3 linked regions of the Homo sapiens genome follow. The protein of the gene in region 1 purifies or fractionates together with the protein of each later gene. This does not show direct contact. Each region holds a gene or a part of one and is shown in the gene's direction. Other genes may lie near its edges.

Region 1 (3,650 bases):
GAAATTGGTTTTCTGCAAAAAAAGTCCCTACCTGAGCCTTTAGGTGAATGTGGGATCCACTCCCGCTTTTAACATGAAAGCATTAGAAGATGTGTGGTGTTTATAAAAGAACAGTTGTCATCACCGGGCATTGATTGGCAGGGACAAGGAGCTGCTTGGGTGTGGAAAGTTGGGGCGTTGGAAAGTGGGCTGTGGTGCCCATTTGCAGTGACTGTGAAGTGACTCCAGGACGGACCTGCGGGGGCACCCAGAGGTCCTAAGCCCCAGGACTGAGGGTCGTGCATCACCACTCGGGTGTCCCGGGAGGTGCCCTGGGCCCGGGGACCTCACAGGCAGGACGGCGACACTAATGCAGGGAGAGGGAGTCTGGCCCCAGCTTTTCCTATCAGAGGCGATTTTCCTTCACCAGGGGATGGGCAGGAAAGAGGCAGGGGCCCCAGAAGCTTCTGTCCCTCATGCCTGAGGGCACGGGGGACACTTGGAGGCTGCTGTCACCACTGTGCGTCCAAGGCCATGCTCTCTGCGGGTCAGTGCCTGAGTCTCGCCTCCCTGCTGGTCCCTGAAGCCCCCTCAGAAGCCCTGCCTGTCACGTCGGCATTTGTGAGACCTACCCTGTAACGCCTGCCCCTCTCAGCCCAACATCAGCTTCCTCTTTCTCCCTTGCTGTAGACAGGCTGGATTCCAGTGTTGGGACAGCCATCTCCAGAAACCTGACTTAAGAGAGTAAGATGCAAATCGTGCCTGTATCCAGTGGCTTTGGTGGGTGCAGGGAGTCTTGGGCACAGCCAGCTCAGCTGTCTGTGGTATGAGCAGGAACAGGTGCCACTCCTGCTCAGGGGACCCTGCCCTACACCAGGCTGTTCCGTCCCCCTGGAGGACATGGGGCCAGGTCTGGAGGCATTTTGGGTTGTCACAGCTGGGGGCTGTTCCTCGGCTTCAGCGGGTGGAAGCCTCAGATGCTGTTCAACATCTTCTGGACACGGGAGGCCCCGACAGAGAGAAGCGTCCACCCGCAAGTCCACAGTCTGAGGTCTCCCCTCAGAGACCCTGCCCTGCACACCCACCTCCAGCCAAAGGTCCTGCCTGCCCCAGGGCTCAGGGGAACCTTGCCGGTCTGTGGAACAGGAGAGGGGACTCTCGCCAGCTGCACCACCCTGCACGTAGTAGGTGTGCGGTAAACATCCACCAGGGAGGCTCCAGTCAAGGCTGGCAGATGGGGCGGTCCATCCCTAGGGCAGGTGACAGAAGGGAAAAGGCTGCCTGCTGGCCCCCGAGCCAGGTAGCACATGCTTGTGCCTCAGTTTCCCCTCCTGTAAAGTGAGGCGCTGGATCCAGGTTCTGTCTACTGGGCTCTGCAGCTTGGACGCTCCTAAGACCAAGCGACCCACCCTGGGGAGGGCAGCTATGGCTTTGGAATAGCTGTCCAGGCCCGGGTGCCTCCAAGACGGCCACCACACCCTGCCTGTGCTGCAGGGGTGCAGGGGTAAGGGGCAAGACTCCAGAGGCCTCCTCTCTGCATCTCCTTGTCTTCAGTGGCCGGAGGTGAGGCCTGAGCTCAGGGGAGGGGCTTCTGCCACGAACCCTATGGCGGGGCACAGCACACTTTTCCCAGGGAGGACCCCTGGGCCCCCTGCATTATCCCCAGCGGAGTGTGGGGTCACCTTCCAAGAGCGACATTGAGAAGCTCCAGCTCTAGGAGTGTGCAGACTCTTAACCAGGCAGGCCCAGGCCCTGGGGCACACAAAGGCGGGGCCTGCTCTCCCCAGCTGCCCCTGCCAATGGGGGCTGGACTGTCCTACCCTCCTCCCTTCTACCTCCCCACTGTCTTCCCTCTCCACTGTCACCACTGCCTCCCTCTTCCACTGTCCTCCATGCACTGCCCTCCCTCCACCTTCCCCCACCCCCACCACTCCCCATGCTGTCCCCAGGCTCCCCCCGCTCTCCCCCCTCCCCACTGTCCCCCTCCCCATGCTGTACCCAGCTCACCCCGCTCTCCCCTCTCCCCACTGTCCCCCCTCCCACTCCCCATGCTGTCCCCAGCTCACCCTACATGGACTTGGCGATGTCCTTCCATGGCTCACCGGTCTGAATTTCCATGATGAGCCGGGCCTGCAGCTTTGCTCCCCTATCCCTGCCCAGGCTGCAGCTGTCCATGCAGGGAGCGAGCTCCAGCACCTGCGGAGTCCTTCCGTGGGGGCCTCTCCGTGCCACAGCAGCCAGGGACCTCAGGTGCCTGTGCATGACACCACCGCCCATCCTCATCCTGAGCCAGCCTCTCAGGATCAGGACTTGGTTTGGCGGCGTTAACCTTAGAGCCTGCAAGGGGCTTCCTCCTGGTGGGTCTGGCCGTAGCCTGGGGAGGCCACAGCTCCAGGCCACTCCAGACCTCCCTTCCTCTGGGCCTTCCATGTGGTGGCAACCACCGCAGCTGTAAGGGAGGGAAAATGGAGCGTTTGTTCTCGGGCTGGGCTGGGGTCTGGGGGAAGCCATGGGCGTGAAGACTGGAGTATTATTTGATGGAGAAGCGGCCACTCCTGGAGACCGGCGGCAAACACAGAAGCACAGCGTGGAAGGTGCTGGTGTCAGCCCACACGGGTGATGGGGTCAGACTCAGGAGTCACACTCAGGAGTCACCAGGCTCAAAGGGCCCAGGCACCGCAAGTCCTGCTCAGCCCCAGACACAATGCATTCCTGTTGCCCTCGCCCTCAGCCAGGCCCCACGCAGGCCAGGGAGCACTGGCAAAGCTTGGCAACCCTCTGGGGGCCAGCCTTCATCCAGGCCGAAGGTGGTCAGTGGCCCACCATGGCCCAGGTAGAAAACTCACGGATTAAGATTTCATGCCCGACTCCAAAGGCAAGAGACTTTATTATTTTATTTTTTTTGAGCCAGAGTATCGCTCTGTCACCTAGGCTGGAGTGCAATCTCTGCTCATTGCAACATCTGCCTCCCGAACTCAAGCAATTCTGCCTCAGCCTCCCAAGTAGCTGGGATTACAGGTGTGCGCCACCATGCCCAGGTAATTGTATTTTTAGTAGAGACAGGGTTTCACCATGTTGGTCAGGCTGGTTTCAAACTCCTGACCTCAAATGATCTGCCCACCTCGACCTCCCAAAGTGCTGGGATTACAGGTGCGAGCCACCGCACCTGGCTACCAGACACTTCAGAGTTACAGGTTAGTTTTTCTTTTTCTTTTATTTTTTTTTTTTTGGCGGAGGTGCAGGGGGAGTTAAACAAACAAACAAAATAAACAGGCCGGGTGCGGTGGCTCATGCCTGTAATCCCAGCACTTTAGGAGGCCTAGGTGGGTGGATCACGAGATCAGGGGTTCAAGACCAGCCTGGCCGAGATGGTAAAACCCCGTCTCCACTAAAAATACAAAAATTGGCCAGGCACGGTGGCTCACACCTGTAATCCCAGTACTTTGGGAGGCTGAGGTGGGCAGATCACCTGAGGTCAGGAGTTCAAGACCAACCTGACCAACATGGAGAAACCCCATCTCTACTAAAAATACAAAATTAGCCAGGTGTGGTGGTGCATGCCTGTAATTCCAGCTACTCGGGAGGCTGAGGCAGGAGAATTGCTTGAACCCAGGAGGCAGAGGTTGCAGTGGGCCAAGATGGCGCCATTGCACTCCAGCCTGGGAACAAGA
Region 2 (3,000 bases), on another chromosome or scaffold:
CGTGGAAGCCATCGAGGGTGTCAGAACGCACCTGCTGCGGCACTCCGAGCCCAGTAAGCTCACCTTTGTGGGGGAGCTTGCCCACGGCCGCTTCAGTGCCAAGATGGTGAGTGTGTCTGCGGGGCCTTCCGGCCGCCGCCCCTTTTACCTTGGCTTCCAAGGTGCCTGAGTCATGATGTCAAAAAGAACGAAATCCTGGCCATGGCGCCCACGTGGAGGCCCTGGGTGGACCGTGGCTGCCTGGCCAGGCCTGTCTTGGCAACAGGGCAGTAAGGCCTTGTGTGGCACCTGGGGTGGGCAGGGCTTCCCCAGGGCAGCTCCCTCCCCGTGCCCGGTGTGTAGCAGGTCCTCGGGCGGTGTGTGGGGGCCGGGTTGGAGGGCCTGGTCCAGGCAGCTCCGCTGTTCCATGCCAAGTGCCCTCGCGTGGCCTCCCCTCCCAGGGTACCAGGGCCGAGGCAGCGCTGGGCTCCCACGTTGGCTGCCCGTGCAGCTGCAGGCTGAGGGCAGGGCCTGGGATCTGGGGCTGAAGAGACCCTCTGATTCCAGGACCACCTGGTGTGCTTCCTGCCAGGGACGCTGGCTCTGGGCGTCTACCACGGCCTGCCCGCCAGCCACATGGAGCTGGCCCAGGAGCTCATGGAGACTTGTTACCAGATGAACCGGCAGATGGAGACGGGGCTGAGTCCCGAGATCGTGCACTTCAACCTTTACCCCCAGCCGGGCCGTCGGGACGTGGAGGTCAAGGTGGGCCTGGGCCTGGGTCAGGGTCCATCAGGAGGAGGGTGCTGGCAGGGCTGGCCTTGCCCTGAGCTCTGCTCCGCCCACAGCCAGCAGACAGGCACAACCTGCTGCGGCCAGAGACCGTGGAGAGCCTGTTCTACCTGTACCGCGTCACAGGGGACCGCAAATACCAGGACTGGGGCTGGGAGATTCTGCAGAGCTTCAGCCGATTCACACGGGTGAGCACCTGTCCTCGCCCCGCGTGGTCACGGCCACCGGGCCACAGGCACGGCTGGGCTGTGGGGCTCAGGCTGGCTCCGCTCTTGGTGGTGGCTGTGACCTGGATCCGGGAGGGGCGGGCTTGCCGCAGCCTCGGGGTGGCCACACTGCAGCTTGGGGGCCCTGGCATCCCCATCCCCACTGAGCTTCATGGTTGTGGGACCCAGAGTACTTGGAGGGGCTGGGCACCCCTCATTTTCATTTCTCAGGGCCTGTCTAGGGAGGGTCTCTGCTGTGGGCCCAGCATCCCCCCAGTTTAGGAGGCACACGCACCCATGACTGGGGCACCATCCCCACTGTGGACCAGGCCCTGTTTTAGGTCACGCCCTCCACGCCAGAGTGTCACTTCCTGGCTCTGCTGTGATCTTGGCCTGAGGCCCCCGCTGCCTCCGCTCCCACCGTCTGCCCTGTGCCCTGTGCCCTGTGCGGCAACTGTGAGGCCCCCTGAGCCCAGGTTCTGGGGGAGGCGGTTTCTGTCGTGGTCACTTGAGGGTTGTTGGCATTTCCAGGTGGGCTCCGGTGGAACCACACGGCTCGCCTGGGGGTGGCCATCATCCAGGCGCCCTCCACCCTGAGCTTGCGCTGGGGGCCACATTCACCATGGGGTGGAGAGCGCTTCGGTGATGAGGCTGAGGGGGGTGCAGGGTGCCCCCCGTGTGGTGACGAGGCCCTGGCTGCTGCACAGGTCCCCTCGGGTGGCTATTCTTCCATCAACAATGTCCAGGATCCTCAGAAGCCCGAGCCTAGGGACAAGATGGAGAGCTTCTTCCTGGGGGAGACGCTCAAGTATCTGTTCTTGCTCTTCTCCGATGACCCAAACCTGCTCAGCCTGGATGCCTACGTGTTCAACACCGAAGCCCACCCTCTGCCTATCTGGACCCCTGCCTAGGGTGGATGGCTGCTGGTGTGGGGACTTCGGGTGGGCAGAGGCACCTTGCTGGGTCTGTGGCATTTTCCAAGGGCCCACGTAGCACCGGCAACCGCCAAGTGGCCCAGGCTCTGAACTGGCTCTGGGCTCCTCCTCGTCTCTGCTTTAATCAGGACACCGTGAGGACAAGTGAGGCCGTCAGTCTTGGTGTGATGCGGGGTGGGCTGGGCCGCTGGAGCCTCCGCCTGCTTCCTCCAGAAGACACGAATCATGACTCACGATTGCTGAAGCCTGAGCAGGTCTCTGTGGGCCGACCAGAGGGGGGCTTCGAGGTGGTCCCTGGTACTGGGGTGACCGAGTGGACAGCCCAGGGTGCAGCTCTGCCCGGGCTCGTGAAGCCTCAGATGTCCCCAATCCAAGGGTCTGGAGGGGCTGCCGTGACTCCAGAGGCCTGAGGCTCCAGGGCTGGCTCTGGTGTTTACAAGCTGGACTCAGGGATCCTCCTGGCCGCCCCGCAGGGGGCTTGGAGGGCTGGACGGCAAGTCCGTCTAGCTCACGGGCCCCTCCAGTGGAATGGGTCTTTTCGGTGGAGATAAAAGTTGATTTGCTCTAACCGCGATGTCGCCTGTGTCTTTAGGGATCTCCATGACTGGAAAGTCTGGGCGGACGTTGGGGAGAAGGTATTCTTCAAGTCACGTCTCAGAATTCGGTTTGCTGAGACTGGACTCTAGCTGTCCCCTGCTGGTGGGCAGGGAGAGGCCACGGGGAAGCTCCGTGTCCCTGGCCCCACGGGGCAGATGCTTGGCGGGAGGCATCCTTGCGCCTGCGTTTCACACAGGGCCTGTTTCCCTGCAGGGCTGGCACTGAGGCGCACAGCTGAGGGATACACGGGCCCTCAGGTCAGGCAGCTCCCAGCAGCCTGGCATGGCTATGGCCCCGAGCCCTGGGCTGTGGTGGCAGAGTTGTCCTCATCATCACTCTACTGCTGTCCCTATCCCAGGGCTGACCCTGGGCCTTGGCTGGGTTCCCCCCGACCCTGAACCAGGTGACCTCTTAGGACCACGCCCCCTCGCTCTCCCCTGTGAAAAATCCATCACCTTCACTTCCGGAAGACTCCCCTTCCCTGGGAAGCC
Region 3 (3,650 bases), on another chromosome or scaffold:
ATTATAGTCACCGTGGCATGCAATAGATCTCTAAAACTTACTCCTCTAACTGAAACTTGGTATTCTTTGACTAACCTCTCTCCTTTCCTTTTTCCCCCTTCTCCCTAGCCTTTGTAGACCACCATTCTGCTCTCTGCCTCCCTGAGTTTGACTTTTTTTTTTAGATTTTACACATATGTGAGATCATGCAGTATTTGTTTTTTTGTGTCTTATTTATTTCACTTAGCATTATGTCCTCCGGGTTAATCTACGTTTTTGAAAATGACATAATTTTCTTCCTTTTAAAGGCTGTATGGTATTCCATTCTGTATATATATTACATTTTCTTTATCCATTCATCATAGATCCTTTTAGATATCTCTAATATCGACCTTAAATGCAGAAGATGAATCACTGTATTGGAAGAAAGAAAAGTAATCCTATAAAATCAGTTTAAAATTAGGTCAGTATAGCAAGGATTAGATATGTTGATTTTACTTTGGGTACTCTGAGAACTTGATTTAAACTGAACCTTGCCCAGTGCTAATGTAATCAGTAGACCACACTAATTCCTATGGTATAGTAGTGACTTTTTTTTTGAGATAGACTCTTGTTCTGTTACCCCAGCTGGAGTGTAGTGGTGCAATCTCTGCTCACTGCAACCTCTGCCTCCTGGGTTCAAGCGATTCTCATGCCTCAGCCTCTGGAGTAGCTGGGATTACAGGCACGCGCCACCACTCCTGGCTAATTTTTGTCTTTTTAGCAGAGACAAGGTTTTACCATGTTGGCCAGGCTGGTCTTGAACTCCTGACCTGAGGTGATCGACCCGCCTCGGCCACCCAAAGTGCTGGGATTACAGGCATGAGCCACCGTGCCGAGCCAATTTTTGTATTTTTAGTAGGGACAGGGTTTCACCCTGTTGGCCAGACTGGTCTCAAACTCCTGACCTCATGTGATCTGCCCACCTCGGCATCCCAAAGTGTTGGGATTACAGGCATGAGCCACTGCACTGGGCTGGAATACATACTAATTTTTAGAAAGCTATTACAGCATCCCTCTTGAGGAAAATGTATAATGTAATTTATGCTGAAGTCTACTGAAAGCTGTAGGGCCTATACAAATATAATGGCATTAATACAATAAAAACTGTGTTCATATTTATTATAATTTCTGGTACATTGTTAGCTATTCTATAAATGTTAGTAAATGAATAAGTTATGTTGAAATTCCTTTTCACATTTTTTTTTCTTTTGTTTGAGGCTCAGTCTTGCTCTTGTTGCCCAGGCTGGAGTGCAGTGGCGCGATCTCAGCTATCCTCAGTCTCTGCCTCCTGGGTTCAAGCTATTCTTCTGCCTCAGCCTCCTGAGTAGCTGGGATTACAGGTGCCCGCCACCATGCCCGGCTAATTTTTGTGCTTTTATTAGAGACGGGGTTTCCCCATGTTGGCCAGGCTGGTCTTGAACTCCTGACCCAGGTGATCTGCCCACTTCGGCCTCCCAAAGTGCTGGAATTACAGGTGTGAGCCACTGCACCTGGCCTCTTTTCACGTTTCAATCTGTGACTAGTACTTAGCACAGTTTTTACAATATTTATATGAAAATGCTCCTTACATACAAATGGCTAGCTCAGATTTTCACCTCTCTGCCATCGTTGCTCTTGAGACTTTTGTTCCATCTCTCTAGTTGCTGACATTGACAATCTTTTTCTTCTTTCACCCAGTTTATATCCACTTTTCTTTTTAGCTTAACAGAGAGTTGACTGACACACCTTTGGGAATTAGATGTGGTCCTCAGCTGTACCCAGTCAGTCTCCTTTATGGGAGAGACAAAACTTTGTTGGGAACCATGAAAAATTAGTGTGCATATCTCAGGCTGTGGATCCTTTCGCCACCCATTTCCATGGTTTTCCTATTTTTGCTCCCCTCCCCAAATTCTGGTGGCATATTGCTTAGTGTTTGCAGTTTTGGGGCTCAGGTCAGTGTAATGGAGGTAACCTTCTTTATAGTCTGACCTGGAATAGAAACTAAAGCCTCGACATATAATCCTAAAGTTGGAAAGAACACGCTGGTCTTGAGTTCTGTGAGTTGCAGGAGACTGAAATTTGTTTCTGCCAACTGTTTTCAGTTAATCAAGTTGGAACCTTAGTGGATATCTTAGATTCTTCTTTACCATTCCCTATATCTTATTAATTACCAGGTCCTCTTAAATATTTCTTCAAACTCTCTCTGCTTCTCAATATTGATGTGTCTTAGTGAGCAGGGTAAAATCACAGCCAAAGTATTTTTTAATTCTCTCACTCAACACAACAATAATTAACACAGAAGACTTCTGTGACCAGATGCTTGGGGGTTTCTCCCCCCACAGCAACCAACCAGTTAGTTCTGCAGCAGATACCAACTGGGTGCCCCCCGGTTCCAATACGGTGTACCTGGAGGTAGTGTCAGACACCACTGGTTGAGGGCAGTTCCCAAAAGACTTCCCCCACTTCCAGTGCTAATCGCAAGCCCCAGGTTATTTTGATTTTGCCTGTGCTTCTGATAACACTGGCTATAAATCAGGGATCCCATGACCCCCCCACTCCTTACGTCCTTGGGTTCAATTAATGTGCTAGAGCAGCTCACAGAACTCAGAGAAACACTTACCGGTTTATTATAAAGGATGTTCAAAGGATACAGATGAACAGATGCATAGGGGGAGATAGGGGAAAGAGCATGGAGCTTCCATGCCTTCCCATGGTGCGCCACCTTCCAGGAGCCTCCAATGTTCAGCTATCCAGAAGCTCTCTGAATCCACTCCTTTTGGGTTTTTATGGAGGCTTCATTACATAGGCACAGTCAACAACTGTGTAGAAATGTGATTGGACAAAAAGAGTATGACCTAACAGCACTAATAGACCCAGTGGGGAAACCCAGCAAGGCCTGCCTGTCCAACTTCTTCTGCCTGTCTGCAGCATTCCTTCTTCCAGGGTCTGGGGCAAGCTCCCTTCTAAAGGGAAGGTCTTATGACCCACAGTCAGACAGGCTGTGGAAGATTAGAGTTCTGCCTTGGGTTGGTGGAAAGGAGGGCAGGAAAAGGTCAGCAAGAGAAGAGATTCTGTTTTCTGAGGTTTAATGTGCCCCAACATTATACAAAAGACTGTAGTAAGGCCAGGCACAGTGGCTTACCTCTGTAATCCCATCACTTTGGAAGGCCGATGTGGGCGGATCACTTGAGGCCAGGAGTTCGAGACCAGCCTGGCCAACATAGTGAAATCCTGTCTCTACTTATATAAAATTAAATTTAATATTAAAAAAGAATGTAATAAGAGCTGTGGGACTTATAAACCAGGAACCATGGATGAAAACCAATATATATCATATCACTCTTAATTCAGTTATGCCCTATCTTACGTTTAGAATTGTTCAGACGTCTAGTCTCATCTCCAGCTTCTCTATCTGTAGTCCTTCAGTCTCTTACCCTTCTTATCTGGCTTTCACACTGCTGCTAGTGTTGGCTTACTAAAATTCATGTCTGATCATGTGATTTCTCTAAAGTTCTTCATGGTTTCCCCTGTGTATAGATGAGTATGTAAGTTTCTTAGTGTGACACATGAACCCCTCCCCTTCATGATCTGGCCTATGTCTGCCTCTGTAGCTACTCTCTGGTCCTTTACCTCTTACATAAGCTACCCAA

Evidence for each region.
Region 2: the proteins of ICOSLG (region 1) and MAN1B1 purify together in Homo sapiens (affinity purification with mass spectrometry; one large-scale study listed by BioGRID and IntAct). This does not show direct contact.
Region 3: the proteins of ICOSLG (region 1) and CLCN3 purify together in Homo sapiens (affinity purification with mass spectrometry; one large-scale study listed by BioGRID and IntAct). This does not show direct contact.

The regions. Positions count from the first base shown.
Region 1 is NC_000021.9:44,223,923-44,227,572, reverse strand, and holds part of ICOSLG (ICOS ligand isoform a precursor), read left to right. Parts: 3' UTR 1-3,650. UniProt on the Homo sapiens protein: Ligand for the T-cell-specific cell surface receptor ICOS. Acts as a costimulatory signal for T-cell proliferation and cytokine secretion. Also induces B-cell proliferation and differentiation into plasma cells.
Region 2 is NC_000009.12:137,106,704-137,109,703, forward strand, and holds the end of MAN1B1 (endoplasmic reticulum mannosyl-oligosaccharide 1,2-alpha-mannosidase), read left to right. Parts: coding exon 1-106; intron 107-546; coding exon 547-744; intron 745-827; coding exon 828-959; coding exon of another isoform or gene 960-1,259; exon of another isoform or gene 1,260-1,675; intron 1,676-1,684; coding exon 1,685-1,888; 3' UTR 1,889-2,480; downstream 2,481-3,000. UniProt on the Homo sapiens protein: Involved in glycoprotein quality control targeting of misfolded glycoproteins for degradation.
Region 3 is NC_000004.12:169,623,574-169,627,223, forward strand, and holds part of CLCN3 (H(+)/Cl(-) exchange transporter 3), read left to right. Parts: intron 1-3,650.